Regions from separate parts of the Homo sapiens genome. Here all the other regions are linked to region 4. The links come from fine-mapping of genetic effects on gene expression. A gene starts in region 4. Each other region holds a variant in brackets. All regions are shown on one strand. Distances are between the middles of the regions. Region 1 overlaps STK32C (serine/threonine kinase 32C). Region 2 overlaps STK32C (serine/threonine kinase 32C). Region 3 overlaps LRRC27 (leucine rich repeat containing 27). Region 4 holds the start of STK32C (serine/threonine kinase 32C).

What was found. PIP is the estimated chance that this variant, and not a neighbour inherited with it, causes the effect. A credible set is the group of variants that fine-mapping cannot tell apart.
Region 1: its variant is the best candidate, but not a certain one, in a credible set for the expression of STK32C in sun-exposed skin (GTEx, PIP 0.84).
Region 2: its variant is the best candidate, but not a certain one, in a credible set for the expression of STK32C in whole blood (INTERVAL, PIP 0.53).
Region 3: its variant is the best candidate, but not a certain one, in a credible set for the expression of STK32C in whole blood (INTERVAL, PIP 0.55).

What each region holds. Positions count from the first base shown.
Region 1 is chr10:132,240,139-132,247,833 of GRCh38, forward strand. It overlaps STK32C (serine/threonine kinase 32C), which reads right to left. Exons shown (of 12, transcript NM_173575.4): 2 at 5,762-5,817. Among named protein-coding and RNA genes, the nearest start is that of DPYSL4, 57 kb to the left of the region's middle. RefSeq lists an enhancer at 2,748-3,632. The variant C/T (reference allele first, on the strand shown) is at 4,551.
Region 2 is chr10:132,213,281-132,220,975 of GRCh38, forward strand. The region is part of intron 10 of STK32C (serine/threonine kinase 32C); the gene reads right to left. Among named protein-coding and RNA genes, the nearest start is that of DPYSL4, 30 kb to the left of the region's middle. The variant G/A (reference allele first, on the strand shown) is at 4,076.
Region 3 is chr10:132,343,006-132,350,700 of GRCh38, forward strand. LRRC27 (leucine rich repeat containing 27) reads left to right here. Exons shown (of 11, transcript NM_030626.3): 5 at 1,493-1,645; 6 at 4,979-5,351. Among named protein-coding and RNA genes, the nearest start is that of LRRC27, 15 kb to the left of the region's middle. The variant A/G (reference allele first, on the strand shown) is at 2,212.
Region 4 is chr10:132,304,320-132,312,014 of GRCh38, forward strand. STK32C (serine/threonine kinase 32C) reads right to left here and starts at 3,631. Exons shown (of 12, transcript NM_173575.4): 1 at 3,253-3,631. The coding sequence starts at 3,514. RefSeq lists a silencer at 3,455-4,104 and enhancers at 4,357-4,901, 4,902-5,444, 7,086-7,380.

The DNA of each region.
Region 1 (7,695 bases), 64 kb before region 4:
TCAAGCCGCCTGGGTGGTGGCCTGAAACCCATGACCCCAAGCTGGCAACTGAGTTTCATCCCAGAACCCGGACACCTGCAAGCTCTTCTCAGCCAGTGCTGCTCGCCACCTGCAGCGAGTCCCCCCGATGGATGAGGAACCCTCAGAACCAGCTCCTCCCGGCGTGGACTCAGAGGCCACAGGCTCAGCCACGGTGTCACAGTCACACATGGCAGGGTGGTCCTACAGCAGCCGCTGGCGGGTTGCCATAGCGACCACAGGCACTGTCTTCTCGCTGAGACGGCACAGGGGGCCCAGGTAAGGTGGAATCCAGAGGCCACGTACACAGGCCCTGCACGGGGGCATGGAGCTGGGGAGCCCGGCCAGGCAGACCTTCTTCACCCACAAACATGCTCATCCTCTTCTTGCCTCTCTGTTGGGTCCATCTGAGATGTGGGGTCACTGCAAGGACAGGCGGTTCCTCGGGGTGGGTGGGGGCTGTGGTGAAGGCCTTTTGACCTGTTTTCTTAGTTATTTCCCCACAGCCTGGGAAATGCGGACGCCGTGCGCCTGTGCTTCTCTCTCTCTCCCTCGGACAGGGGGATGGCCTGGGGTGAGGGGTGCGCAGGGCAGGGCGAGGAGCCCAGCCAGCCAGGGGGGTTAGAGAGGAGAGGGCAGAGACCCACTTAGGGTCAAGGGGCGGGGCTGCACCCAACTGTGCCCACTGCCCAACAGCCAGCCGTGCCACCGAGAAATCCATCTGGGCAAGGGGCTCTCGAACCCCCAAAGGGGCACCACACCCCTAGAGACACGCCTCTGCCTCCTGATAGCTGTGCCCATCAGACACCGTCAAGCTGGCGTCCTGGTGCTCCCTGCAGCATTCTGGCCGAGTGGAAATCCGGCCTCTGCCCCTACAGAAGTCAACGGGAACACACGATCTCCCAGCACTTAGCACTCACACCCCAAACACTCCTAGTTAAGTGAGGGCCTGGCTGTTATTCCCAGGAGCACCAGCCACAGCTTGGCAAAGCCAAACCCGACCCTCCACCCACACCTGCTGCCCAGGCTGGGTGCAAGAGCCACACGCCCAGCCCACCCAACTCCTCCAGCCAGAAGCACAGCCGTGGCTCCAAAGAGGCATCCAAAGAGGACGCCGACTGCCCCTTTGACAGCTGCGGGAAGGCAGGGCTCAGGGCCAGGCAGTGGCTCAACGACAAGGTCGACAATTTAACACTGGGAAAAGTTAGAAAATAAAGTCTGTTAGTCACGGCAGCAAAAAGTTCCACGTAACAACATGACATAGAATAACCATAGGAACGACGTATCATCAACGGAACAAAATGTGAAGAATCAAGATGAAAAAGCAGACGCCTATTTGGGTAAAAGACACTAGACCCCTAGATGGGTAAGATCTCAACTTTGCTCTCAATTAATCTGAAAACGTAACTCCTATCCAAATCCCAGCGGGGTTACTTTCGACCTTGACAAGACGTATTCAGAAGTCCGTGTGGAAAAATAAACACGAAGGAAGAGCCGGCATTTTTGGCAGAGTGTAGAAGAGGCTCCAGAACACTGCGGACTCACTGGTCAGCGAACCCTTCATTCAGGGGACAGAGCGGGAAGCCCAGAGAGAGGCCTGCACCCTCGACGGGCTGTCCACAAGCAGCTCCAGACCTCAAGCCCGCCAACTTAAAAGTGCTGAATTCCAGCCACGAGCAGCGGCTCACAGCTGTAATCCCAGGACTTTGGGAGGCTGAGGTGGGCAGATCTCTTGAGGTCACGAGTTTGAGACCAGCCTGGAGAACATAGCGAAACCCTGTCTCTACTAAAAATACAAAAAAAATTAGCTGAGCATGGTGGCACACGCCTGTAGTCCCAGCTACTCAGGAGGCTGAGGAATGAGAATCACTTGAACCTGGGAGGTGGATGTCGCAGTGAGCCGAGATCACGCCACTGCACTTTAGCCTGGGTGACACAGTGAGACCCTGACTGAAAAAATGCTGAATTCCAGATGGACTCCATTCTCCCCAGAACAGAACGTTTCTTGCCCTGATCGTGAATGAGGCAGTGCTGGGTGCAGACGGCCTTCAAGCATGTATGGGGGCCAGGGGCTGGTGTCCTCTGAGAGGGGCCATGAGCTGGGAGCTGCTGGGAGGAGGGCGGCTGAAGGCACCCAGGACACGGGACGAGTGGGGGGAGTGCAGCAGGAGGACGGAAGGGCACGGGTGGTGAAGGGGCTCCGACGGCACCAGTAAACTCTGCGTTGTTGACTGTTTGGAGCAGAAACCACTGGAAAACAGCACCTGAGGTTGGGGGGGCTCTCTCCAAACTCCCCTCATCTGCCTAAAGACAGACACTCCAAGAGGAACTGCCAGCACAGCCCCCCTGCAGTTCCAGCGGCCCAGGAAGAGGGACCCTCCCCCGGGAGAGGGGCCAGGATCCACCCCCGCCTCAGGCTCAGTCACAAACCATCACAGCCCCCGCTGCTTCTCCGAGGGCCCTGTAGTCTCCCCAAAAGCTGTGTGCCCCCCATGCGGCCCCCCGCGCCCCCTTCTCCCAGCCTGCACATCAGCCCTTGGGGCCCACCACTGTTTTGGGTGTTTTCTTTTTCCCCCACGATGCCCTGCACACGTAACACTAATAATAAATTCGTATGCTTTTCCTCCTGCCCCTGTGCCTACTGTCAGCACGTTTCACAGACCTGGCTCTCAGCCTCAGAAGGCAGCCAGAGGGGCGGCTCCTCCATGGCACGTTTGGTTTGGGAAACCTGGGCCCAAAGAACAGGAAAACGCTGTACCCCCACCCAGGGGAACCACAGACCGGAAAGGTCAATGGCTTTTAAGAGATGCGTGTCCAGAGATGGGGCCCACCTTACAGGCCAGAGGGGCCGGGGCTCGGCATGGGCTTGGGGTTCATGCCCAGCCCAACCTGCACTGGTCTGCACCCCCCAGCCAAGCCTGGTCCCAGAGAGACCCTGGGGCAGCGACCTCCCCTCATCCCTGGGGCAGCTGCATCCAAGCCACCCACCCACCAGCTCACAGGAGGATGCAGGAATGGGGCTGCCCCCATCTGTGGCTCCTGGGATCATGGCCCTCAGCCTGAGATATCCACAGCCCAAGGCTGGAATGCGATGTCCTGGATTCTGAACAAGCACAATTAGGCAGCGCTGGGGAGGTGGCGAGCCTCTCAGACACCGCAGCCTCTGGAACCCCGGCTGGACGCTGAGGAGGCAGCAGGCTTCTAATCACACTGAGCAGCCTGGGGGCGAGGCGGGGGTGGAGAGTGGGCTGGACGGAAGTCTATGCCGGGTAAGGGGGCAGGCAGGGGCGGAGGGCAGGCTGGACGAATGTCCATGGCAGGGAGAAACAGATTTTCTCCAAGTCTAGATTCCTCCCTGCTAAGTGGTTAGTCCTGGAATTAACTACCGCCACCACTTTCAGCCGGACAGAACCGGGGGCACCATGTACTTCATGCCTCAAAGCTGTCTTCAAAACAGTGAAAATGGTAAATTTGTTATGTGTAATTCACTGTAATTTTTTAAAAACTGAAAACAAAAACAAAAGCCAAGGGCCAGGTCTAGATAATCCATTTCCGAGAGCGGCGGCCCCGAGGGTGGAGCCATGGCCCTGGTGGTAGAGCAGCTGCACCAGGGCCATTTGGCAGGACCCGACTCTACCCGGTCAGACTCTAAATGCTGCGCCGCCCTGAACGGGTGGGCTCCGGTGCTCTGCCAGGGGATCCCACCCCTCAACCCGGAGCCATTTTCACAGGTGGCTCAAACACTGGCAGGGCTTGGGCACAGCTGAGCCTGGGCCCACCACCACCTGCAGGGAAACAGGGGTGGCTGGGGCCCCTGCTGCTGCAGCCCCTCTGAACTGAGGCCACATGTGAGCAGACACAGCTACAGCCCAACCACACGCAGAACCACCCTTCTCAGCCCTCATCCTTCCTGCCATGGGGTCATTGCCTTGGCCAGTGAAAGAGCTGGAAGGACCCCTCCAGGTCAGTGACAGGCCTCACCTCACCCTCCCCTCAGTGCCAGGCACCCATCAACAAGCGCCGCACAGAACCCCTGCAGGCCTGATGAGGAGGCCTAACTGTGAGCCGGAAGGAACCCTCCAGGTGCACGACTACCCCGCATCTGAACACGGCACCCAGCAGCTCGCTCCTGTTCCCCGCATTCCACAGCCGCCCATTTCTGGGCCAGCTGGCGTTTCCGAGCCTCTTAAGGACTGGTCCAAGGAGTAGAACCCTGGCAGTCTACAGATGGTGGGCAGGGCTGAGGCTGCCCACCTGTGCTCATGAGAAGGAGGGGACCATCCCCAGGCAGGAGTGCAGGGCCAGCAGAGGCGGGGGCAACAGGGGCAATGGGGAGATGCTGGGGGCCCCAGGAAACAGCACCTGCACCCGCCAGCCTCGCTCCCCAGGGCAGGTCTCTGCCCCTCAGATGCCCTCGGCCTGGCCCTCTCCAGACATGCTGGCCGGGCCCAGGCTTCCCAACCTCCCTCCTTGAACCTGATTTCTGGATGCCTGGTGACTCCCAGGGTCCCCCTAAGCCACCTCTCCTGAAC[C/T]TGGTCACAGCTGCCGTCCTCCGCTGCCAGAGGGGAGCAGTCCCCCAAAACTCCATCCTGCCTGCCCCTCGTGCACCCGCTGTGGGCCTGGGAAACAGAACTTAGGCTCAGCTGGGAGGACAGGAGGGTCTGAGTCAGTCCCAACAGCCCTGAGCGTCTCTGACGAACTCCGCCAGCTTCAGCACCTCACCTCGATGGTCAACCAGCCTCACCAGCAACAAAACGGTGCAGGTCCACGGGCGCCTCCCAACATGCAGGGACTCAAAAGCACTCTCTTCTTGGTGCACGGGAGCTTTCTCAATGCACTGCGCAAAGGGGCTCATTTGCTCTGACTTTTCATCATCCCAGGCCTCAAGTAACCCAGTGGAGCCATCGTTTGCTATACAATGAAATGGAGGTAATTAATCGCATTCAAATACCCTACGTATTATGCTCCGGTAGCATGGCAATCGCTTTAAAAAGGGCTTATGGGGCTTAAATAGACACAGTGTCCAGGCAGCTGTACAGCCAGGAGCAGGAGGGAGGCAGCACCCATCTGCTAAGCCTCCCGGGACAGCTGAAAAGAACTGTCCATTCAGAAGTGATTCATCCACAACAGAGCTGCGCGCAGAAGCCGGAGGGCTAATTCCAACCTTTTCCGAGTGCTCGTTAAGCCTCTTTGAGTTATAATTACCCCCAATCTCTAGATATTACAAGGCGGCAATCAGGAAGTTAGATCTGGTCAAGAGAAAACAAAAGGAGAGTAAAGGAACGGGCTCCGTCCAGGCCGGCAAACAGGCCTATCTGGAGGACAGCAGCAGGGCACTCTGGACGGGGCTGGAGACAGGGATAAGGATGAGGACAAGGACCAGCTGAGGATGCACGCTCAGCACCCACCCTCCGTCCTGTCCCCTGTAGGTCCTGAGGAGCAGCCGCAGGCACAGCCTGGCCTCTAGGCTCCAGTTCAGCCAAAGCTGCGATTTTGTCCTCCTGGTGGCTCCTGGACGCTGCGGAGTTGGTGACACCATGGGGCCCAGTCTGATGGCGGCACAGCCAGCTGCCTCCGTGGCAGGAGTGCCCACGTCCTCCCTAAAAGACCTGGAGCCTCTGCCCAGGTAAGGCTGCTTCTCCCAAGGAGGATGGGAGTAGGTGGGCTCAGGGGACAGCATGTCCGACTCCACGGTTCTGCCCCTGCCCCCTCAGCCCAGTCCCCACCCCAGGCCCTGCCTTACCTTGCCAAAGCTGCCCTTCCCAATGGCCCGAAGGATCTGGAAGTGGTCGAAGTTCACTGCAGGATAAAACAGAGGGACACCTGGTGAGGTGGCAGCAAGGCCCCACCCCAGAGCAGCTCCCCCACCTCAACATCCCCCACCCCGACACTGCCCAGGGCCCCTCATCCTAGAAGAGGGTCGCCGTGGGGCGGGCCAAACTCTCGCTCCTGTGCGAGGCAGGAGGGGGCTGAGCCCCGGTCAGTGAAGACATGGGCCTTGGGTCTTGCACGTCCTACTCCCAGGATTGCTATGGGATTAGGCATGTGCTCAGCCACAGCATGGATGGGGCAAGAATGAACCACACACACCTGAGTCCCAGACTCGACTGGGCTGTCTTCCCAGGCACCAGCCACCCCCACTGAAAGCTGCTCCATCCAGTGAAGACCCCCAGACAGGCAGGCCTGGGGTTTTGGGGGAAGCCATGCACACATGAGCAGCTGTTCCTGGTTCCCCTCCACCCTGCTCCGCGTCTCCAGAGGACAGGGGTGTCAGCCCTGCTGGCACTCACTGGGCAAGCCTGGGGGAGTCTGCAAACGGCCCCAAGATGAACAACGAGAGGCGGCTCAGGGCTGTGGCTATGTCCACCATGACCTGTGTAGCCTGGGAGAGCCTGCGCCCAGCATGAGAGCCGTTCCGCAAGCCTGTGCGAAGCTGCAGAAGGCACCATTTCCCACACCTGCAAGTCCCTCCGGGAGAAGGACGGCTCCCCTAATTGTCACTCGTGAGACCTGTCCGTGTGCCCTATTCACACCAAGGAAAGGGATTCTGATGGGCTTTCCAGACCGTCTGCACTTGCCTTTCAAACCCAGGACATTCTCCGTACACATAAGACGGGGGTCCCACAATGTCACCCCCTGGCCTCCAGGACGAGCCCCTCCAGATGACTCCCAGGCCAGCAGCTGCCTCCACTTGTGTCCCCAGGCCTGTGTCCCCAATTCTGCACCCCTAAGTCCGTGTCCCCAGGTCTGCACCCCTCAGTGTGCTGTATCCATGAAGGGCCAGCACTGTGCCCTGAAGCCAGGTTTAGGACACCCGCTGGTTCATGACATTTCACCTATTTACCCACTTTTACCCCAGCCTCATGTTCACTTATTCTCTGGGGAATTCGACAGCTGGAACAACCCCCTACACACATGGTTATTCTAAAGGCAGGGAAGACACAGCCAAGGCCAGAGGCAGACCCGGGGAGACAGCAGGGTAGGTACTGACCCCTCCTGGGAGGCACGGCCTAGAGTCTCATCTCCACTGCTCCCTGGCGGTACCCTGTGCCGTCTGGTGGGGCAAGTGCTTTAGGCACTCAGTGTGTGGAGGAGGAGACAGAACAGTTTCTAGACGAAAGGTTTCTTTGCATTTTCCTCTGAACTGGAAAATGCCCACTCCCTTCCCAGGGCACCCCAGGATAGCCCCAGGTTTCAGCATAGACGCAGCAGGCAAAGTGTCCATCCTCATGGGCCCTGGGGACAGAGTCACACACCCAGAATTCTTTCAGCCTGAGCTACGGGTGCCGTGACAAGGACCCACGGAGGCTTCAGGGCTCCGAGCACAGGGCAGAGCTGGCCTGAAGGCGCAGGGTGGCATCCTGGGGAGAGGACGCCTGTGCTGGGCCCTCCAGGACAAGTAGGCATCAGCTGGGGGAAGGGAGGGGGTGCCTAGGTGAGGGGCCAGCCTGGGCACAGGCAGGAAAAGGACCCCAAGGGTATGGACAGACCCACAAGCTGGTCCTGGGTGAAGTGGGAGGGCAGTCAGCAGAGCACCTGGGGGTGAGGAAGGGGCTGTGACCTGTGGCCTTGGTCTCCTCTGCACAAGACGGTAGTGGGGCTTGACTCGCAGAGGTGGGGAGAGCGGTTTGATTTAAGCGCCTTAGAAAGGCACTCCCCACTGCAAGTGACCAGAGG
Region 2 (7,695 bases), 91 kb before region 4:
CACAGGCCCCCAAGACTGAGATTTGGTCACAGACTGTGGAACAGTTCCCTCCCCACCATCTTCCCAACACACCCACAGGGCCTCCGCAGTGTGACAGGGATTCCAGCAGAGAGGGCCACAAGACGCAGACTCTCTCTGAGGAGGAGGATTTAGGCAAGCCCAAGGGCAACCCGGGAAATGAAAACAAATGTGAAGCCTCTGGTGCCCACAGCTACAGCAGACTTTAAACCCTGCCCCAAACCTGGCCAGATTACATAAACCTCACACTAAAGGCCCATCTACTTCAGCTCTTATTACCAGATACATCACGTCCAGCTTTCAACAAACATTACAAGGCAGACTACAAGGTCTTAAGGAAAAAAATAGAGTGTGAAGAGACAATGCACACATTAGAACAGATCCAGATATGGCACCCATGTTGGAATTATCAAACAGGAAATTTGAAATAACTGTGATTAATATGGCAAGGGCTCCAGGGGAAAAGCAGGCAAGAACAGATGGGGAACAGAAGGGCAATGTAAGTAGAGAGATGGAAACTCCAAGGAGGGATCAAAAGGAAATGCTGGAAGTAGAAAACACTGTAACAGAAATGAGGATGCCTTTGATGGTTCCTCAGTAGACTGGATCCAGATGAGGAAGGATCTATGAGCTTGAAGAAATGTCAACAGAAACTTCTCGAACTGAAATGCAAAGAGAAAAAAAAAAGAGTGAAAAAAATGAACAGAATATCCAAGAGCTGTGGGACAATTTCAAACGGCACCACACACGCATAATTGGATTTCCAGCAGGAGAAGAGAAAGAGAACAGAATATTTGAAATAATAATGACTGGGAATTTTCTGAAATTAATGACAGACACCAAACCACAGGATCTAAGAAGCTCAGAGAACACCAAGCAGAATGAATATTAAAAAAAAATCTGTACCTAGGCATATCATTATTCAAATTGCAGAAAACCAAAGACAGAGAAAATCTTGAAATGAGCTGGGGGTGGGGGGTGGCGAGGAATTCTACTTACAGAAAAAGAATTAGAGCAGACTGCCTGTTAGAAATCACATAAGCAAGAAGAGAGCGGAGTGAAATATTTAAAGTGTTGAAAGTAAAAAACCTACCAATCTAGAATTCTATATCCAGTGAAATTATTATTTAAAGGTGAAAGTAAAGACTTTTTTGGACAAACAAAAAGGGAAGGAATTCATCTCTGTTGGACCTGTCCTATAAGACATGTTAAACGAAGTTCCTCAGGGGAAAGGAAAATGATTTAGGTCAGCAACTTGGGTCTGCATAAAGAAAGGAAGCACTTTAGAGGAGGAATGAATAGAGGTAAAATGAAATTTTTAATTTTTCTTAATTGATCCAAAAGATAACTGTTTAAAATAACAGTAGTAACAATGTAATGAGCAATTATAGCATACAGATAAATGAAATGAATGACAGCAATGTCATCAGGAACAGGAGGATTGCACGAGAGGTGCCGTCACAAGGCATCCCACTGCACATGAGGGGGCAGAGTGTCAGGTGAAGGTAGACTGTATGGTAAAGGTATACTGCAATGTCCAGGCCAACCACTAAAAATATTTCAAAAAGAAGTATAATTAACAGGCCAGGAGAGGAGATAAACTAGAATAATATAAAATGCTTAATTAAAACCAGAAAAGGCAGAAAAATAGGGAAAAAGGAAGAACAATAAATAGACTACAGTTACAAATAAGGTAGATATCATATTGAACTATATAAATGACCACTTATTTATTTACAAGACAGCGTGTCTCTCTGTTACCCAGACTGGAGTGCAGGGGCATGATCATAGCTTACTGCAGCCTTGAACTCCTGGGCTCAAGCAATCCTACTGCCTCAGCCTCCTGCGTAGCTGGTATCACAGGTGTATCCCACCACACCCAGATAATTTTTTTTTGTAGAGACAGGGTCTCGCCATGTTGCCCAGCCTGGTCTCAAACTCCTGGACTCAAGCAATCCTCTCACGTCACTGGAACTACAGGCATGCACTGTTATGCCTGCCTAATTTTTTTGTCTTTTATAGAGCTGGTGATAAGGTTTGGCTGTCTCCCCACCCCAATCTCAGCTTGAATTGTGACTCCCACAATTCCCGTGTGTCATGGGAGGAACCCAGTGGGAGGTGATTGAATTATGGGGGCGGGTCTTTCCTGTGCTGTTGTCATGATAGTGAATGAGTCTCATGAGATCTGATGGTTTTAAAAACAAAAGTTTCCCTGCACAAGCTCTCTCTGCCATCCATGTAAGATGTGACTTGCTCCTCCTTGCCTTCCGCCATGATTGTGAGGCCTCCCCAGCCATGTGGAACTGTAAGTCCATTAAACCTTTTTCCTGTATAAATTTCCCAGTCTCGGATATGTCTTTATTAGCAGCGTGAGAACAGACTAATACAGTAAATTGGTACCAGTAAAGTAGGGCGCTGCTGAAATGATACCTGAAAATGTGGAAGCAACTTTTTAGAACTGGGTAATAGGCAGAGGCTGGAACCATCTGGAGGGCTCAGAAGAAGACAGGAAAATGTGGGAAAGTTTGGAACTTCCTAGAGACTTGTTGAATGGCTTTGACCAAAATGCTGATAATGATATGGACAATGAAGTCCAGGCTGAGCTGGTCTCAGATGGAGATGAGGAACTTGTTGGGAACTACAGCAAAGGTGGCTCTTGTTATGCTTTAAGCAAAGAGACTGGCAGCATTTTGCCCCTGCCCTAGAGATTTGTGGAACTCTGAATTTGAGAGATGATTTAGGGTATGTGGCAGAAGAAATTTCTAAGCAGCAAAGCATTCAAGAGGTGACTTGGGTGCTGTTAAAGGCATTCCATTTTAAAAAGGAAACAGCATAAAAGTTCAAAAAATTTGCAACCTGACAATGCAATAGAAAAGAAACTCCTGGCTGGGCACGGTGGCTCACGCCTGTAATCCTAGCACTTTGGGAGGTTAAGGCAGGCAGATCACCTGAGGTCAGGAGTTCAAGACCAGCCTGGCCAACATGGTGAAACCCTTCTCTACTAAAAATACAAAAATTAGCTGGGTGTGGTGGTGCGTGCCTGTAATCCCAGCTACTTGGGAGGCTGAGACAGGAGAATCACTTGAACTTAGGAAGCGGAGGTTGCAGTGGCAATGAGCCGCCATTGCACCACTGCACTCCAGCCTGGGTGACAGAGCAAGACTGTCTCAAAAAAAAAAAAAAAGAGAGAAAAAAAAGAAAACCCCATTTTCTGAGGAGAAATTTGCATAAGCAACAAGGAACTGAATATTAATCACCAAGACAATGGGGAAAATGTCTCCAGGGCATGCCACAGACCTTTGCGGCAGCCCCTACCATCACAGACTCAGAGGCCTAGGAGGAAAAAATGGTTTCATGGGCGAGGTCCAGGGTCCCTCTGCTGTGTGCAGTCTAGGGACTTGCTGCACTGCATCCCAGCTGCTCCAGCCATGACTGAAAGGGGCCAAGGTACAGCTCAGGCTGTGGCTTCAGAGGGTACAAGCCCCAAGCTGTGGCAGCTTCCATGTGGTGTTGAGCCCGCAGGTGCACAGAAGTCAAGAATTGAGGTTTGGGAGCCTCTGCCTGCATTTCAGAGGATGTATGGAAACACCTGGATGTCCAGGCAGAAGTTTGTTGCAGGGGTGGGGCCCTCATGGAGAACCTCTGCTAGGGCAATGCAGAAGGGAAATGTGGGGTTGGTGCCCCTATACAAAGTCCCCACTGGGGCACACTGCCTAGTGGAGCTCTGAGAAGAGGGCCACCATCCTCTACACCCCAGAATGGTATATCCACCAACAGCTTGCACCATGCACCTGGAAAAGCCACAGACACTCAATGCCAGCCCACGAAAGCAGCCGGGAGGAAGGCTGTACTCTGCAGAGCCACAAGGGCAGAGCTGCCTAAGACCATGGGAACCCAACTCTTGCATCAGCATGACCTGGATGTGAGAGATAGAGTCAAAGATGTTCATTTTGAAGCTTTAAGATTTGACAGGCCTGCTGGATTTCAGACTTGCATGGGGCCTGTAGCCCCTTTGTTTTGGCCAATTTCTCCCATTTGGAATGGCTGAATTTACCCA[G/A]TGCCTGTACCCCTATTGTATCTAGGAAGTCACTTGCTTTTGATTTTACAGACTCATAGGCAGAAGGGACTTACCTTGTCTCAGATGAGACATTGGACTGTGGACTTTTGAGTTAATGCCAAAATAAGACTATGGGGGACTGTTGGGAAGGCATGATTGGTTCTGAAATGTGAGGACATGAGATTTTGGAGGGGCTGGGGCAGAATGATATGGTTTGGCTCTGTCCCCATCCCAATCTCAGCTTGAATTGTGACTCCCACAATTCCCACATGTTGTGGGAGGAACCTGGTGGGAGGTGATTGAATTATGGGGGCGGGTCTTTCCTGTGCTGTTGTCATGATAGTGAATGAGTCTCATGAGATCCGATGGTTTTAAAAACAAAAGTTTCCCTGAACAAGCTCTCTCTTTGCCTGCCGCCATCCATGTAAGATGTGACTTTCTCCTCCTTGCCTTCCACGACTGTGAGGCCTCCCCAGCCATGTGGAACTGTAAATCCATTAAACCTTTTTCCTGTATAAATTACCCAGACTCAGGTATGCCTTTATTAGCAGTGTGAAAATAGACTAATACAGATGGGTCTCACCTTGTTGCCCAGGCTGGTCTCAAACTCCTGGACTCAAGCAGTCCTCTTGCCTCAGCCTCCCTGGTCGCTTTAAATGTGAATGGTCTAAAATACACCAATTAGGTCAGGCACAGTGGCTCACATCTGTAATCCCAGCATTTTGGGAGGCTGAGGTGGGAGGACTCCAAGAGTTTGAGACCAACCTGGACAACATAGTGAGACCCTGTCTCTACAACAAAATTTTTTTCAAATGAGCCAGGTGTGGTGGTGCACACCCACAGTTCCAGCCATTCTGGCAGCTGGGGCAGGGAGGATCACTTGAGCCCAGGAAGTCAAGGCTGAAGTGAGCCTTCATTGCACCACTGCACTCCAGTTTTGGTAATAAAGCAAGACCCTGTCTCTAAAAAAAAATAAAGTAAAATAAATATGCCAATTAAAATATATTGTCAGAGTAGACTAAAAAAAAGACAATAAAAATTTTAAAACATTTGGATAGACATTTCTCTAGACACAATGCCTGATAAAACACCTCAAAAGATGTTCAATATCATCAGAGAAATGCAAACCATAACCACACAATCACTGCACACTAAGATAACTATGATTTTTTAAAAAATAAACCAGACAATAACAGGACTTGGTAAATATATGGAGAAATTAGAACCCTCACACACTGCTGGTAGGGGCATAAAATGGCACACCTGCTGTAGAAAAGGGTAGGTGTTTCCTCCAAACATGAAGCACAGAGTCACATATGACCCAGCGGGTTCATGCCTAGGTATGTGCCCCCCAAAAATAAAAGTACATATCCACACAAAGACTTGTATGTGAATGTTCACAGCAGCATTATTCATGATAATGAAAAATGTTAACAAGTGGAAAGAACAAATACTCATCAACTGATGACTGGATAAAGGAAAGGTGATACATATGTGGAATATTACTCAGCCATCAACAGGAATGAAGCACTGACAGGCTACAACGTGGACGGGCCTCAAAAGCATCCTGCGAAGTGAAAGAAGCCAGCTGCAAAGACCACATAGTGTGTAACTCCACTTCCATGAAACGCCCACAACAGGCAACCCTACAGAGACGGAAAGTAGCTTCGTGGCTGCCAGGGGAGGGGAGAAGAGGGGAATGGGGCATGACTGCTAATAGGTGGGGTCTTTCTCTTACATTACATGAAAAGGTTCTAAAATCAGATTGTGGTGGAGAATGCACAGCCCTGTGACTATATTAAAAACCATGGAATTATATGCTTTACATGGATGCACTGTATATTGCATGGAATGTGAATTATATCAAAATAAAGCTGTTTCCAAAAACCTCTCTCAGCCTCAAGGTTAACAGTGGGACTTTTTTTTTGGAGTGATGCTTTCCTTTCAGAACACCTCCTACCCTCAAGCCAAAACATCTCCACACAACCAACCCAAGACAAAGCCGAGCTCCTCCCGCTCACAGGTGCCTGGCCTTACCTGTTCCCAGCCAGAGCCTCCTGGGAACTCAGCATGGCCAGCTGGGCTCTGCACACTGTCCATCCCTGAGTCTCCCATGAGGGTTCCTAACTCATCCTGGGCCTGTTTCTACACCCCAGAGCCCTGGCTCTGGACATGCTCTGGTAGGGAAAACTTAAACATCCAATGGGGGCAATGCCAAAGAACCCCCAACCCCGAGAACCTTCCAACCATCCTGTGGCTCTCAGCAGTGCCTCACAGTGGCCACCTGGCAGACAGCAGCTCTCCACCAGCAATTCTGCCTGAGGACACCCAGGGCTGCCGGCAGCCGTCCTGGAGGAGGGGCGAGGATGGGAGCCTGACCCACTGGGGGGCCGTGTTCCCCCCAAAATCAGGGCACCCAGGGCATGACCCCACCCCTGCCCCCCACATCATGGTGAGGAGGGGACTGACACCCGTCTTCTGCCCAGGAGCAACACAGGGCCCACCAGGTCTGAGGAGGCTGCACGGGGGCTGAGGCACAAGAGTTTCCCAGGACATCCACCACAGGCTCAGGCAGACTCAGGGGCAAGGGGACCACCGAGGGACCCAGGGTCATCACCGTCACCCTGACATCAACACACAACCATAGCTACTCCTTGGTGAATATCAGCCACATCCTGGTGGTATGGGCCAAACTGTGTCCCCAAAAATGACACACTCAAATTCTAATCCTGGGTACCTGTGAATGTGACCTCATTTGGAAGTGAGGTCTTTGCAGATATCATCAAGATAAGATGGGGCCATACTGGATCAGGGTGGGCCCTAAATCCAATGCCTGGTGTCCTTATGAGAAGAGGGGAGGAGATGGAGACGCACACACAGGCCGACCCCACGCGGCAGCGAAGCAGGGGCTGGGGGGATGCGTCTAGGCCAAGGCAGCCTCTACCGGAGGGTAGAGGGGCAAGGACTGGTTTTCCTCCCCGGAGAGCCTTCAGAGGGGGCACGGCTTTGCTGACATCTTAACTTTGGACTCAGGCCTCCAAGCCATGAGACAACACATTTCTTTTTAAATCTGCTGATTAAAAGGGAGCCTGTTGATGCTCTATTGTGAATATCACATTCACATGGAACACGAACCACGTCCACATTGGGAACACCACGTCCTCACATAGCAGAGGATCAAAGACTCAAAAGAGGACTAAAGTCACCCTTCTACAACAGCATTAACCCCATCCATGCTGGAAGAACCTACGTGGCCCCATCAGCCCCCAAAAGTCCCATCTCTACCACCATCACAATAGGAAGCAAATTCCAACACGAGTTTTAAGGGAAACATTTCAACCACAGCACCTGTCAAATCCCTGATGAGACCACGACCTCAGACAATATTAGCTCACACTCTGGGGAGACCCAGAAGCAGGAAACAGAGCTGCACCTGACAAGGCCACGACCTCAATGTTAGCTCACATTCTGGTGAGACCCCGAAGCAGGGAACAGAGCTGCACCATGCCTGGACTTCCGATTTACAGAAACTGAGATCATCACATAACTGCCCAAGGGGTTCACCTTACCCGCTGCCTAGACAGCCAATTATCAAGACAGGGGAGCTGCAGGAGACAGAG
Region 3 (7,695 bases), 39 kb after region 4:
TAGTTTAAAAGAACAGTTGAGACCACGCATAGTGGCTCATGCCTGTAATCTTAGCACCTTGGGGCGCCAAGGCAGGAGGATCCCCTGAAGCCAGGAGTTTGAAACCAGCCTGGGTAACATAGTGAGACCCCATCTCTACAAAAAATAAAATAAAATAAAATTAGCCAGGTGCAGTAGTGCATGCCTGTGTTCCTAGGTACTTAGGAGGCTGAGGCAGGAGGCTAACTTGAGCCCAGGACTTCAAGGCTGCAGTGAGCTCTGATTGCACCACTATACTCCAACCTGGACAACAGGGCGAGACCCTCTCTCTAAAAACAAAACAACAACAACAACAAAAAACAAAAATAAAAGAACAGTTAGGTTAAATTGTGCCTTTGTAAATGGAACGAGTTATGGCTGGAACCCTTACACAGTTTTAGAGAAAACAGAATAGCAAATTTACACTTCAAAGAACAGAGAGAGAATTTAAGCTTTTTAAAGAAGGAGTTTGGGTGTGTTTGAAGACTAAAAATGGATGACAAGATAATACAGAGTCACTTGCCACAGGATTTGATAAGGAAACGAATTTCATTTAGATAGGTAGCTTCTAGTTTAGTCTCTGTTTTCCAACTGGACCAGTGAGCTCAGGGCAGAGCCCATTAATGGACAGGGCCAACAAGGCATTTGCAGTTTGTAGAGCCTAATACTTAACCTACATGTGAAAAGCGAGCGCGGCTGAAAGGTGGGACACCCAAATACCCAAAATCCAAGCATCCATCTTTCACACTGAACCCTGGCTCCCTCAGATTGGGAAACGCCACAGGACTAGGGCCCCTGCAGTGCTTCCCCGTGCTCCTCATTCCGGGGACTTCGCCCTGAGCCTGGGGAGTGAGCCAGCCCCCACCAGCCCACTGCCCACCACGGGAGCCTTACCTCTCAGCGGCCATCGTTTCCAAAGCCTCCAAGTTCACATAATTTCCATTTTTAGTGACATTTCACATTTGTGGAGTCCTTGTATTCTATTTTCTTCTAATTAAACACAATTTTCTTCATTTGCTTGAACATATTTAAATGGTTGCTTTGAAGTCTTTGTTAAACCCAACATCTGGGCCTCCTCCAAGACAGTTTCCATTGTCTGCTCCGTTCCTGAGTGTAGGGTACATTTTCCTTTTCTTTGCATGTCTGGTAGTTTTTATGTGGAAAATGGGCATTTTAGATAATATAGCGACTTTGTATTCTGAATTTTACAGAATTGTGAAGGTGGTTGTGGCTGCTTCTGTTTGTTTGATTTTATTTATTTGTTTTTTGGAAACCATCCTGGTCTTAATTTGCGGAATCCGTCTCCTGCAGAGTTACCTTTAAAGCAAATCTTTGACATCTGTTAACGTGATTTTCCCCCAAATACTGAATAGAATCATATTTTAAAATGTGAAAAGTTACTATTATTTATTCCTCATTTTCATTTCAAGAATGGTATATAGAATGCTGACAGTTTTTTTTTCCTCCACTGCAGGGAGCGTAACCACGCTGAAAGCACTGAACCTAAGACACTGCCCTCTGGAATTCCCTCCTCAGCTCGTTGTGCAGAAGGGATTGGTGGCTATCCAGCGCTTCCTGCGGATGTGGGCAGTAGAACACTCTCTCCCCAGAAATCCAACTTCTCAAGGTTTGTAGGAGGTGATTTATGACAAATCACATTAACGTTGAAGTTACAGCTTTTTAAAATCAGGGCAGAACCTGTCTTCTCTTTAATAACATCCTGAGAAATACAGGAGCCATGGGTCCTCTGCTGAGTTGACACAGTGTACACTGATCTCAGGCCGACCCAGTCATCTCTGTGACTTTTCCTTGGTTCTATAAATCTGGGCACATTATAGATCCTGGCTCAAGTGGATTTTGGTAGAAGTTTATTGTGATCAATCAAATGAAACAGTTATCACCTCCAAGCCACCCGCAGGCGGCTGCTTCAGGAATGACTTGATGCTGCATTAGGCAGCTATTTTAAAATAAGTACAATGAAATATTCCTTATTCCTAACGAGGTACAAGAAATTAGCAGGAAAATGGCCCTGTAGACATGTTTTATCTAATCACCTTGTTGGTGGGTGCTCACTAACCTGTTCCATTCTTTCAACATACTGACCAGCCAGGTATTTTCAGATGCTCATGATGTGTTCTGGTCTTGAGTACGCATTGTAGTTACACTTGGAAAAGGTAAAGTTAAATTGGGATA[A/G]AGGAGAATCATAATGAAGCCTTGCCAAAAAAAGTACATATTCTGAAATATTGTCAGAATATTTAAAATTTTACTATTTGTGATGTACTTTGATACTTAAGAAAAATGCATGTTTGGAACATTAGCCAAGGTGATTATAGATGTGCTGCAATTGAAATGTGTGGGTTAGGTCTTCGTAAATAACGTGTGGCCTTGCACTTTTGACCCAGATGGACTCTATTTGGAAATTGTTTTAAATGATTAAGAGTCAGCTGTTGGCCCTGTGCTTGCTGAGTTGTTTGTAGACATATTTTAACCAGGTTATAGTGGCTGCATTGGGGCATTGCGCTGAAGCCGCCTGGCTGTGGCACCCTTGACCCCGATGCTGCCAGGATGTTGTGATAAAAATAGGAAAAGAAAAGTAGCCGCTGGACTGGCAGTGTGGAGGGCACTGGGCACCTGGCAGGAGTGGGGGCAGGTAGCTGAGGGCATGGGGTGGCCGAGGAGAGATAGGACCAGGACCTGGAGACAGCTGGGACAAGGATGGAGGGGCAGAACCGTCAGGCACAGCCGGAGCCAGGACACAGGGAGCACAGGAGACACGGACAGACCCTGCTGGAGGATCAGGATAAAAAAGAGGAGAAGTTGAAGGTTCATTCCAGTTGAAGGAGACTAAAGGAATAGGAAACTGGATGTGATGCTTCATCCTGGATTGGATCCTGGGCCAGGACAAATATGATAAAGGACATTACTGGGACAGTTATCAAGGTGTGAGGAAGGCCAGCCAGTAAATGACAGAAGTCAGCGATGGGACGCTCCTGGTTTTGGTGAATCGCTATGGCGATGTGTGAGCATCTCCATCTGAGGGTGGAGGGGCAGGATGTCTGAAGTTACCCTTGAGTGTTTTAGGAAATGCATGAGCACCCCAGACAGAGAGGCGAGGGCGGGTAGGCTCATGGGGGCAGCAGCCTCGGGGGCCAGGCACCAGCGGCTGCTGATGGGGTGCGGGGTCCATCAACTTCTCAGCGGTGTTATTGCAACTTTTCTGTAAGTTTGAAAAAAATACATTAAGTAACTGGTCAAAAATAAGTATTTTCTGACTCTTTTCTATTAGGTTTTAGGGCCACATAGAGTGATTTTTCAGCTACTATGTATATTTTTAGTACTTTGTCCTTTCAATTACTTTAAAAAGTCTTTGCTGGCGGGCGTGGTGGCTCACGCCTGTGATCCCAGCACTTTGGGAGGCCGAGGCGGGCGGATCACGAGGTCAGGAGATTGAGACCATCCTGGCTAACATGGTGAAACCCTGTCTCTACTAAAAATACAAAAAATTAGTTGGGCGTGGTCGTGGGCACCTGTAGTCCCAGCTACTTGGGAGGCTGAGGCAGGAGAATGGTGTGAACCCGGGAGGCGGAGCCAAGATGGTGTCACTGCACTCCAGCCTGGATGACAGAGCGAGATTCCGTCTTAAAAAAATAAATAAATAAATAAAAGTCTTTTTGCTGTATCCCACTCTTCCTGTTTGCTTTCATTTTCATGAATTTCAGTTTTGTCCCTGGCCCTAAATCAGTTGTCCACAGGCAGATTGGTCAAATATGCATGTTTCTAGTCACTTGTACCCCAGGGGGAATTTTACAACTTCTTAGGACGTTTTGAAGCATGTTTGCCCATTTTTTAAAACTTTTCCTTTCAAACCTAAGACCCTGAGCACGCAGCAGTCAGGAGCATGTGGCAGCCAGGGGCGTGATGTCCATGCGCCTGTGTCCACTGCGACGGCCACCTGGGGTCTCACTCAGCCTTCAGGTCGTGCTGGGCACGTGCTGGGAGAAGACTGGCCAATAGGTCCCAGTGGCTCCCAAAGTGCCTGGAGTGCCTCTCTGAGGTCGTGTTTTGAGAAAGTCAACAAAAGCATCACCAAACAAGAAAAGCAGGCATAATGGGCTAAACATTACTTAGAAACAAAGATTCTAAGTGATCTGAGGGGAAGCAGAAATGTTGATTAAATGTGGCAAGATTGCCCTGTGTACACATGCAAAAAGTCCCTCCAAAGTGGTAAGGCCTATGTGGGAAGGTCAGGCGCGCCCGGTGGGGCCTGTGTGAGAGGGTCAGGCGTGCTCAGTGGGGCCTGTGTGGGAAGGTCACGCGTGTCCGGTGGGGCCCGTGTGGGAAGGTCAGGTGTGTCTGGTGGGGCCTCTGTGGGAAGGTCAGGCGTGTCTCATGGGGCCTGTGTAGGAAGGTCAGGCGTGCTCAGTGGGGCTTGTGTGGGAAGGTCACATGTGTCCTGTGGGGCTTGTGTGGGAAGGTCACGCATGTCCAGTGGGGCCTGCATGGGAAGGTCAGGTGCACCCAGTGGGGCCTGCGTGAGAGTCAGGTGTGCTCGGTGGGGCCTGCGTGGGAGGGTCAGGTGCTCCCAGTGGGGCCTGCATCAAAGTCAGATGTGCTCAGTGGGGCCTGGTGGGGCCTGCAGGGGAGGGTCAGGTGCGCCCGGTGGTGCCTGCGGGGAGGGTCAGGTGCGCCTGGTGGGGCCTGTGTGGGAGAGTCCAGGTGTGCTTCTGGCAGTGTTGTTTCCATTCCCTCCATGTGGAACTGCTTTGTGTGCCGCAGCAGGCTGGCGTGGTGCAGGTGGCAGGTGGGGTGACGGGAATTGTTTGGATTGACAGGGAACGTGGCAGCCATGGAGGATCTGGGCACCCCACCCCCCACCATCCAGGCCGTCACTGGCTTTTTGAATAAGTCACAGAGGGATGGCGTTGATGGTAGCTACTAAAGCGGTTTCTTACTCTCCCAGAGGCTCCACCGGTTAGAGAGATGACCCTCCGTGACCTCCCGAGCCCAGGACTGGAGTTGTCTGGAGACCACGCGTCTAACCAAGGAGCTGTGAACGCTCAGGACCCAGAGGGGGCTGTGATGAAAGAGAAGGCCAGCTTTCTCCCACCTGTGGAAAAGCCAGACCTGAGTGAACTCAGGAAGTCTGCGGACTCCTCAGAGAACTGGCCCAGCGAGGAGGAGATCAGGCGCTTTTGGAAGCTGAGGCAGGAGATTGTTGAGCACGTGAAGGCAGACGTTCTGGGAGATCAGCTCTTGACGAGGGAATTACCTCCAAATCTCAAGGCGGCCTTGAACATTGAGAAAGAACTACCAAAGCCAAGACACGTTTTCAGGTAAAACTGAAAAGCAACGGGGGATTTTCTTGATCTTTGCGAATTTATACAGTTATTTTAAATTATCTTTGAAAACATCAGGTCCAGCTTTTAAAGTGTCCTCCACGTTGCCACCGTTTACTGTGCAGTGAGTGCCGGTCCCAGGTTTAGGGTAACGGGGACCCGCATCAAGCCCGGAGCATCTGCGGCAGAGCTCAGTCCATTCAGAGGCTGAGTTTGCCAAGGTTGAGGATACGCCCGGGGAAAAGAGACATAAGCGACAGTGAGATCTGTGGCCTGTGCTTTCTCCAGAGAGAGCTTTGAGGATGTCAGCATTTAAAGGAGAAAGAATGGGCAGCAGGGAAAGGAGGAAAGAACAGTAAAAGTGGGGGCAGGCAGTGAGCCAAGTGGGCACATTCTTGTGAGGCTTCGATCAGTGCTCACTGAATCCACATTTTACCTGTGAAAAGAGAGGAGTTGGGGGAAAGGTCAGTTATGCAGAAAATAAATGGCAGCTGCCTGGGGACAAAAGGAAGGCAGTCATTGTGTGGCCCACTTCCAAAGCTTGCCTTTGCCTTTGGTACAGTGAGTTTGGGGGCCGAGATTTTATTTTCCTTTCACACCCAGGACAAGGGTCCCTAGGAAACAGGCTCTGCAGAGACTACATGAGAGAAAAACTCGAATCATGGGCGTGGTAGGGCGTGCGCCTACACATATGGGAGGTATGTATCTGTGGTGTGCGTGTGTGTGCCTGCATGTGGTGTGTGTGCCTGTGTGTGTGTAAACATCTAGAGAGAGAATGCTGCAAAATAACAATTGGTGAATCTAGATCATGCATTCTCAAGGGGCACATTGTCATAGCCGAGGGGACAACAATGGCTTCCTGGGGGTGAAGATTCTTGGAGGCCGCAGTGGTCTGTGGTCCCTCAGGCTCCACGCAGCGTCCAGCACGAGCAGGTTCACAGTGGCACCAGACCTTCCCGGAGGTGTTGGCATGAAGCGCTCATGGCCCTGATCTTTCAGCTGTCCTGTAGGTTTGAACATTCAAAACAGAACAAAACAAACCTTGGAAGCATCACTAAAAGATTAAAGGGTAGGATGTCCTAGCAGCACACACAGCAGGTTCCCAGCTACAGCGAGGCCTCGGACGCTCCAGCACGCTTGTGGTGTTCTTAGTCCACACAGTCGCACGGTGAAAGGGCAGGAATATCCTGAGCCTGCTGCTTAGAAACCTCTTTTCTTCCCTCCTCCCTTCAAATATTTATTTATTGTTAGGGACCCTAATAATAGCTAATCCAAGTGAATTGTGGTATGCTTATTAATCGTACTTATAATTTGATCAATATGTCAGATTTGGATACTAGACCCTAGCCTTCGGAGATTGCTTTGGGTGGCTTGGGAAGTTGGAGCAGAGAACTGGAGTCTCTGGCAGGAAGCCTCAACCTGGAGCCCCTGCCCCATGGTTGGGTGGGCCCTGAGTGTTGTCTTCCCCCTCTGCTGCCTCTGCCCAGGGTGAGCCATAGAGAACCACTCTGTGCCTCAGCTTTCCCACGGGGTGGTTGTGGTCTCACATGCATTATCAGGGCCTCAGTTTCCCCACTTGGTCAGGTTGTCGTGGGGTCACAGGTATTAAGAAGAAGCTCTAAGATTATGGCCCTGGTCTGCGCTCAGGGTGGTGGCCCTTCCTGAGGGTCTGGGACTCGGGAAGCTGGTGCTCCTCTGTGTTCTCTGGCCAGGGAGCAGTGGGCATGGTGAGAGCAGCAGGCCCGGTCCAAGGTGACTCGTGTGGCCTGGGCCTGCTTATAAGGCTGAGTGCTCATGTCCAAAATACTTGCAAGAAAAGTGATGTTATGTAAAAATCATAGGTAAATAATGGTCTGGTCCTGAAATCCCAAAATTATATTGGGAGGGAATCAAAGCATTCTGAAGTCATCAAACATGGAGCTGGAGTACGACGGAGCATCACTGCCCCAGCCTGATTCTGACGTCCAGCAGGCCTTCCTCTGGGGCAGCTCCTCCATACCCCTCAGGACCCTGAGACCACAAGGGGAAGCCTGGTGTTCCATAGAGCCTGGGCCACCTGCCCTTCCAAAAGCAGCAGGTTAAAGGCCAGTGCCCAGCACGCACCCCAGGTGACCCCTGTCCCAGAGCACAGGCCATGCCTGCCCTCTCTGCTCTACTGAGACAGTCACTGCTGTTCCCGTGCAGATGGGGAAGACGAGGGACAGTCACTGCTGTTCCCGTGCAGACGGGGAAGATGAGGGTGGAAGGTCATGCAGCGTGGGGGGGCGGGCCAGCCTCCTGGGACGTGGCCACCGGGCATGCTGCTTGGCTGTGGCCTCCCAAGATGTGCTGCTGGTGTGAG
Region 4 (7,695 bases):
ACCCCCAACCCACCAAACCCCCCCAGTTCACCCACAGTTCACGGGTGTGGGGCTTGAGCATCTGCATTTTTTAAGAGTGCCCAGTGAATGACTCGGGTCCACAGCCTGGGGCTGAGAACTGTTGTAAATTCAGCCAACAAATGATGCCTCAGGTCTGGAAGAGGCTGGCAACATATCGCTGAATCAACAAGCACCTTACGGCAAATTGGCATGCAGAGCAGGATCCCACTTCTGCTAACAAAGAGAGAGTGTTTCTCCACGGCTGTACCTGGGACTGTATTTCCAGAAAAAGGCTGGGAGGTGACACCGTGATCCCAATGCTGAAGTTACAGATACCGTGGCATAAAGTATAGAATGTTTTTAAATGCATACATTTTAATGCTTTCATAATTAGGAAAAAACAAAGGTGTTTCTAATTTTAAGAGATGACTTGAGGAGTCTGGTGGCCCCTGGTCCTGCCTCACTGCCTGCCCGGCCCGGCGCCCAGGGCGGGCCGTCCACAGCCTGCAAGGGCCTGTCCACTCCAGCCTTCCCCAGATGAAGGCAAAGCCCCTCAGGGAGGAGCTACTTCCTGCTGGCGGGCTAATGCCACGTCAGGCTGGAGACTCAATGCTGTGACCCCGAGACGGGCGAGCGCCCCCCAGGTTGCAGAGCTGCTTAGCGGGAAGGTACCGGAGCCTCCTCTCAGGTTCACTTGGTATCACCAGGACACCAAGACAGAGAGGAATGAAGGGGCTCGCCCAACGCCATGCAGCTCTGGTGCAGAGCAGCAGCAGAAAGACCCCCTAACCAAGTTCAACCCCAAAAATGAATTTTTCACCGAAGTCAGAGAAGGGATAGAATGGGAGCATGTGAGGGGCTGAGGGGAAGGAAAACTGGAGACCCTCAGTTCTGGCATGACAAAGACGTGCAGAGAATTCTGTACATGCACCAAATATCTGCCAAATTAGGAAAATGGTTCTGGAGTCCACAAGGATTAAAAGGAACAGAGGACATTTAGTCTTATATGTCGCAACTATGCCTATCAGTTGAAATTTACCTGGCACTTTGTTAAACAGCACTCTTAATTTCTTTTTTCCTTTTCTCTGCATACTAAATTTGATATATTAATTAGGTGTTTTAATCTAAAAAATTCATCGGAAGGTCTAGCATTGCCATAGCAACCGTGCAGATTCAGTAAACTCGAGACACCAACACAGCACCAGGGCCTCCTTAAGCCAGTGCTGCCACGGGGCCACGAAAGTACCAGGCAAATGACTGCACCAACCTGAAAGGGGTGGGACTCAGGGGCAACAGTCCCTTCCTAAAAGACTCTCCTTTCTCCTTCCAAACTGAATCCCTTCCACCAACACGAGTCCCCGGCATCCACACTCAGAGGTGCAGAACATTCTTCTGCAAACCCTGTGCTATGACTCCCAAGTTGTCTGTGCCCTGCCAGTGACAGGAAGAAGCGGAGGGAAGCGGTCACCGCCCAGAGATGTCCTCTGCTATTCGGGCCAGGGCCTAGTCTTGCCCTCCTGATTTCACCACACAAAGCCCAGCTGAGTCCCGGCGGGTGCTCAGTTTGGGGATGTGGCTGCATACCAAGCCATACGGAGCCAGCAGCATCCGTGGGACACCGTCAGCCGAATCTCTGCCGTCCTACTACAGGCAAATACGGTGATGCTGGGGATGTGAAAGAATTCCCAAGTCAGACCGTGAGCCCCACAGACAGACTCTGTGCTTGCTCTTTTTGCCTTTCTAGTGATCCTTGAATTCTGTGACATAACACACTGTGAACACACAGGGAAGTCTACCCTACAAAGCTGAAGGCAGCCCAGTGCCACACCACTGTCTCCACTCCCACCCCCGGAGAGCACGGTGCCGAGACCCAGAAGAGCAGCCAGCTCTTGGCTGACACCAGCAAGTGCTAAACCAGATGCGTTTCTCAGACGTTCTCTCAACCCGCAGCCAGAAACGAGAGGCAAATCTGCCTCCTGATCAGCTCCTAGTTCACTCTGGGCTTTCTTTACTTTGAATATTTATGTTAAAAACAAAAACATTTCTCAAACATTCACCATCGTGAGTTCTGCTGTCCCGAAGTTCAGGACACAGTGACGGGCCACCCTGGAGCGTGTGGGGCCTGGTGTGGCTGGGCCTTCAGCCCTCCTTCTAGGCAGCACACCATGAATCCCCGGTGCCGTCTCCCGGAGGAACGGCGGTGCACGGCCCCACACTCACCAACGCCGGCCTGAGGTCGTATTACTGTAATTTCCCATAATGCTTAAATTATTTATCGCAAGTAAATAGCCTGGCTCCTGAGCGCTGGGCTCTAAAATTTTGAAGGATCCATCATACCTCTGCACGCTATCTATAAATGAAAAATGCACATTTCAAGTATTTTAAGAAAATGTCAAAAAACATGAAATGTGTCATCAATGTACGATTTTAAATGATTTGCATGTTACCTGTAGAAAAGAGCTGTATGTCTGCATGTGACTGTATTACAGTGCCCACAGGCAGACGCGGCACCACATCTCCCTGCAGGTGATAATTCGGGGGTCCCCGGGGCCCCCTGGCACCCCGGGAGGTGTCCCTGCAGGCCTGTCCCATGTCACCTCACCTGCCTTCTCTGCTTTCTATGGCGCCCACGGCTGCACGGTCACTCAGGAGACACCAGTCCCCGGGGTTGGCGGCTTTATCTACAGGACTCAGCAGCGCACTCGTTCCTGGCAGGGCAGGTCTTTGCACAACGGCCTGGCCCTGCCTCCAGCGCACATGGGTGAGCAGAGGATGGACACCGCGCGGTCACCAAGGAGACTGAGCCTCTGAGCGGCCGGGCCCCGCCACCTGTGGGGCAGGAGCCTCACTCGCACTCGGGCGGCACAGGTGAGCGCCTCTCTAACTGCAAAGTACAAACGAGCCCGCACGTGGGCCCGAGCGGATCACGGAAAGCGGAAAGCAGGGCTGCCACGGGCGGTGGGCGGAGGCGCGCGCAAGCCCGGAGACGCCACAGCCGCGGGGGACCCTCGCCCCGAGGGCCCGGGCCCAGCCTGCTCCTCCTGCGGCGCCGCCACTAGAAACGGAGGACGCGGGCGGGCGCCCAGAACTCGCGTGGGGCCGCAGCCACCCGGCGCGAGCTTCTCCGGAAGCCGGGGCGCCCCGGGAAGCCGTCCCGGACACCGGGGGAACCCCTGCGGGAAAAAGCCGCCCAGCCGCGCCCGCCCCTGCAATAGCGCGCGGCCCCCACGTCGTCCCCGTGCCCGCACTCACCGTCCTCCTTGTCGTCAAACACCGGCCTCCGCGCGGTGGCCGCCGACATGGACGAGCCCATCCTCTTCTTCCACTTGCTCCACTGAAACAGGGGGCGCGGCTGCGAGCGGACATCGCCCGAGTCCCGGGCCCGGGGCTGGCCAGCAGCGGGCGGCGGCAGGGCCGAGGGCGCGTCGGAGCCGGCGGGGCGCGCGCGGCCGGGGGGCGGCGAGCCCGGGGACGCCGCGGCGCTGCTGCCCCTGCGCTCGGCGCCACTCCTCATCGCCGGGTCTGGGTGCGCGCGGCAGCCGGAACTCGGGGCATGGCCGGCCGGCAGGGCCGGGAGCGGCAGTGGTAGCGGGAGCGCTCGGGGCCGGCAGCGCCCGCCGTGCGCTCTTCTGGGCGGTGGAACCCGCCCCGTAGATTGCGAGCGCTGGGGGCGGGGCAGGGGCGGGGCTTCTGGAAGGGGCGGGGGCGGGGCGGAGCTCCTGGAAGGGGTCGAGGCGGAGCTGAGCGCCGGGGCGTGGCAGGTGCGGAGCTTCGGGAAGGGTAGGGGCGGGGCCGAGCCGGGGGCGGGGCAGGGGCGGGGCTAGTGCCTGGAGTGTCGCTAGGGAGTGGGTGGCCGCCACCAGTCTAGGGATGGGGGCTGTGGTTCGCCGGGACACGGGGACCACGGCTCAGACTAGACGGCGGGTACGAGAGCGAGGGAGGCAGGGAGCGTCCCCACGGGTATCCTGGGGCCCCGGAGGTCGGCGTCCCTGGCACGGGGACTGCTGTGCCCGGCACGGCGGCGGGACCTTCTCGCGGTCTCCGGGGGCCTCCCTCCCCTGCCTTCTTCGTGAAAACAGCCGGCGCGCGGGCTTCCGCCGCCCAGTGCGGGGAGCCCTAAACTCCAGCCTTCTGCTTTGCGCAGGGTGAGGCCGGGCTGCAGGCCCGGGATGCGGGCGGCGGGAATCTGCCGGGCAGAGCCCGGCTCACGGTCAGGAGGCGGCAGGCTGAGTCCAAGCGCTGCGCCAGAGGGTGGGGTGGGGCAGGGCGGGCCTGGCTGCGCGCGCGCACACGCGGGCGCCTGGGGTGGGCGCTAAGCCCTGAGCACGTGCGCCCGCGCTCTCGGGCACCCCCGTGCCATCCTCGCGACCCCCGTCCGGCCTGAGACCGCGTGCCCGAGTCGCCCAGGGTCCCCTTGTCCAGATGCGACAGGGGCCTCGGCACTCGGCGTATTTCGGAGGCCTGGGGCGCGGCTTGACCTCCGGGCACCTCTGCCCCTGCGCAGGGCCAGGCGCGACCTTGCGCGGAAAGTGCTGGGCGCCTTGGAGTGCCCTGGAGAAGGCGCGGCTCTGCATGGAGCCTCGCCGCCTGCCCCTGGCGCTTGTCACTGAAGAATCAGTTTTTGCTACCGGGCTGTTTGACTTTAGGAAGCCTTTACCTCCTTAAGTTCTGCCCTGTAACCAGGACACAAAGACGGGGTCTCTTCCTCCTCGGTGAAATCCTAGATGGGATTTCCTGCTGCCCGCCCGGACGATGAGCGGATCCCCAACATGGCTCCAAGGCCAGTGTCTCCCGCTCCCGTCCCTCCCACCGCACACAACTGTCTACCCTGTCATTCAGCCACTGTGAGCCCTGCCTCCCCACGGCCTTTGACATTCAGTGTGGCCGCCCGCCCTAACCGCCTGATGCATGAAATGTGAGCACGGGAAGTCTGTGTGGCTTCTGGGCCAACAGGAGCCCCCATCCCTTGGGGACTATAAGGAATGGAACCATGCCCATCTACCTAGGACATGCACCCGCCTGGACATGCACCCGCCTGGACATGCACCCGCCTAGGACATGCACCCACCTGGACATGCACCCGCTTAGGACACATGGCATGCATTTCACTACTGAGATTTAGAGGGTATTTTTATGGCAGCATAACCTAGGTTACCTGACCAACCAGCCACCGCAGCTCTCCCTGCCTGGCTAGCACAAACGCATCGGTCTCTAACTTCCAGTGCACAGAGCCGAGTTTTCAGCCCTTGCAGCTGCGAAGCTCTGTTCCCTGCTCTCCCTCAAAGTTGCCATTCTCCAGCAGGCACGCAGAAGGCAGTGGGTTCAGCACCTGCCTCAGAGGAAGCCCTCGGTGCCCATCCCAGCAGGAGTGGTGAAGGAGCGTTTGGAAGGGGAGGTACCAAGGCAGGGCAGTGCCTGGAACCCTGCGTACCCGGTGCACACATCAGACTCCCCAGGGCTCCTCCCAAAACACGCAGCCTCTGAACTTACATCATCGCCTCTCCTCCTCTCCCTCTGACCCCTAAAAGTGGCAGAAAAGGAATAAAAGATATAACGTCCCCACCACCACCTAAGAGGGAACAGGAGAAGGGAAGACATGTTAATAGACTTCAGACAGCAGGTAGAAAGCTGACTCTGAAGATTGGAGAGGCTGAGGACCTGCAGGTAACCAGGACCCCAAAAGGCGGGAGAATGTGAATACAGCCAGAGCCCAGGACGCCTCCCCGGCCCGGGCAGTTGGGGATGGACAGTCCTCTGGTCTGAGGGTCCAAAGGGGCTCTTGACCTAGGGATACCAAGTCCTGCAGAAGACAAGAGTGCAGGGGGGCAGAGGGGTTCATGGGGACATCTGCACACTTAACTAGGAGACCCTCCAACCTCACCCTTGCTGTGAGCCTCAAACACCAAGCCAGGCACCTGCCTCTCAGTCAGGAAACAGGAAGGATCTGTAGGGAAACAGCAGCTCCCAAAAGAATGCCGGGTCCTAAGATTTGGCCAGTGCAGATCAGCCCTGGAGGGGCCTGTGGGCTCAGGGCACAACTCTTGTACTGTCCAGGTGCAACTCTTGTACTGTCCAGCCACGGCTCAGGGTCCAGGCAAACACAAGACTGAGCGTTAAGAGGTGCACAGTGTAGGCATGAGACAGGAGGGGTCAGGAACTGCTGTCCCCAAGAGGATGCCAACCCCTGGTGCCTCATGGGAGGTAGCTCTGAAGTTCTAGGGGGATGCTGGGAGGGACTGAGGCTGGGACAGAGTCAGCTGTGGATGGGAAGGGGCAGTGAGGCCAGTAGAGAATTCCTGAGTTCCCCTGTGTGCCCATGCTGCCCGGGAACGTCAACTTCATTAGGGCAGCGATGGTGTCTGCCCCTTCCAATGACAGGAGACCAAGTGACAATGTGACAGATAAATGCATTCAGTGCACTGACGTCTAGCACGCAGGAGCACACAGGAAGGCACATGGCTGGGCAGCACGTGCATGATCGTGGGACCACTTTAGCTTGGGTAGTCCAGCATGAGTCTCTGAGCAGGTGACCTTGATGCTGAGGCCGGAGCATGAACGAGTAGCCCAAGGGAGGCCAGGTGTCCGGGTTCCAACAGCAGGAGCTGGCCCTAAGGTAGAAACCGGCTTGTGCGGGAGGACAGGAGGGTCCATGCTGCAGGACAGCAAGTGAGTGGCCGTGGCATGTGCTGAAGGGCTGGGGGTGGTTTGGGGGACAAGGTGCAGTCCCTGACACCAGGCTTCATGTGCATTTGTTCATAATTCGTCCATAAAGCCACGCCTCCTGAGGGACATGCCTTGGACATGGGTCCTCCGTTGCCACATAATTGGCACACAGCTCAGTCACACCGAGATGTGTGCTTCATCTTCTGTCATCATTATGAAATTAACACATGCTCTGCCCACGCCTTTGTTAAGAGTCCTTTTATTAAATCTCCTCAGATCACACGATTCGTGTGTGCTGTTTCCTGCTGGAAAACACATCTCAGAACTGACCCCCAAAACAGGAAATGGGCTCCCATGGGACTCCGATGCTGGTGTCCACCTATGTGGAGAATCCACGGACAGCCTCCCTCCTGGGAAATGGAAGACAGATGGCCGTGGCGCCCTCAGATTCAGCCCTGGCGGGGCCTGGGACTGAGGATTCTTGGAAGGCCAGGGCCTTGGAGCCCACGTGTGGGGACACTTGGTTGCTATGGTGACAGTATTGATTTTAAAGGTCATGTGGCCACCTGGTGACTCAGGAAGGAGCACAGCGACGGAGAACATGCAGGACGGGCTGCAGCCACTAGGAAGGAGCCCTCGCCCCCACTGCAGTGCGCCGGGGCCGAGCATGAGTTCACCGCTCAGCTCTGCTTAAGGACCCACAACCCCAGCCCCTGCTGCCACCATCATCACGTTGCCTTTTCATCTGTCTACTCCGCCCTTTTCTTCCTCTATAAGGACACTTGTCATTGGACTTAGGGCCCACCCTACTCCAGGATGATATCATCTTGAGATCCTTAACTTAGTTACATCTGCAAAGATCCTCTTTCCAGATAAGGTCACATTCACAGGGCCGGCACGGACATGTCCTTTGGTGGCAAAAGGCCACCATTTAACCCACCACATCCATGGGCAGCATGGATTCACCACACCCTACAGCCCCAAAGTCCCAACCATTACAGCAGCAACTCTAAGTCCAAAATCCCAGCTCAA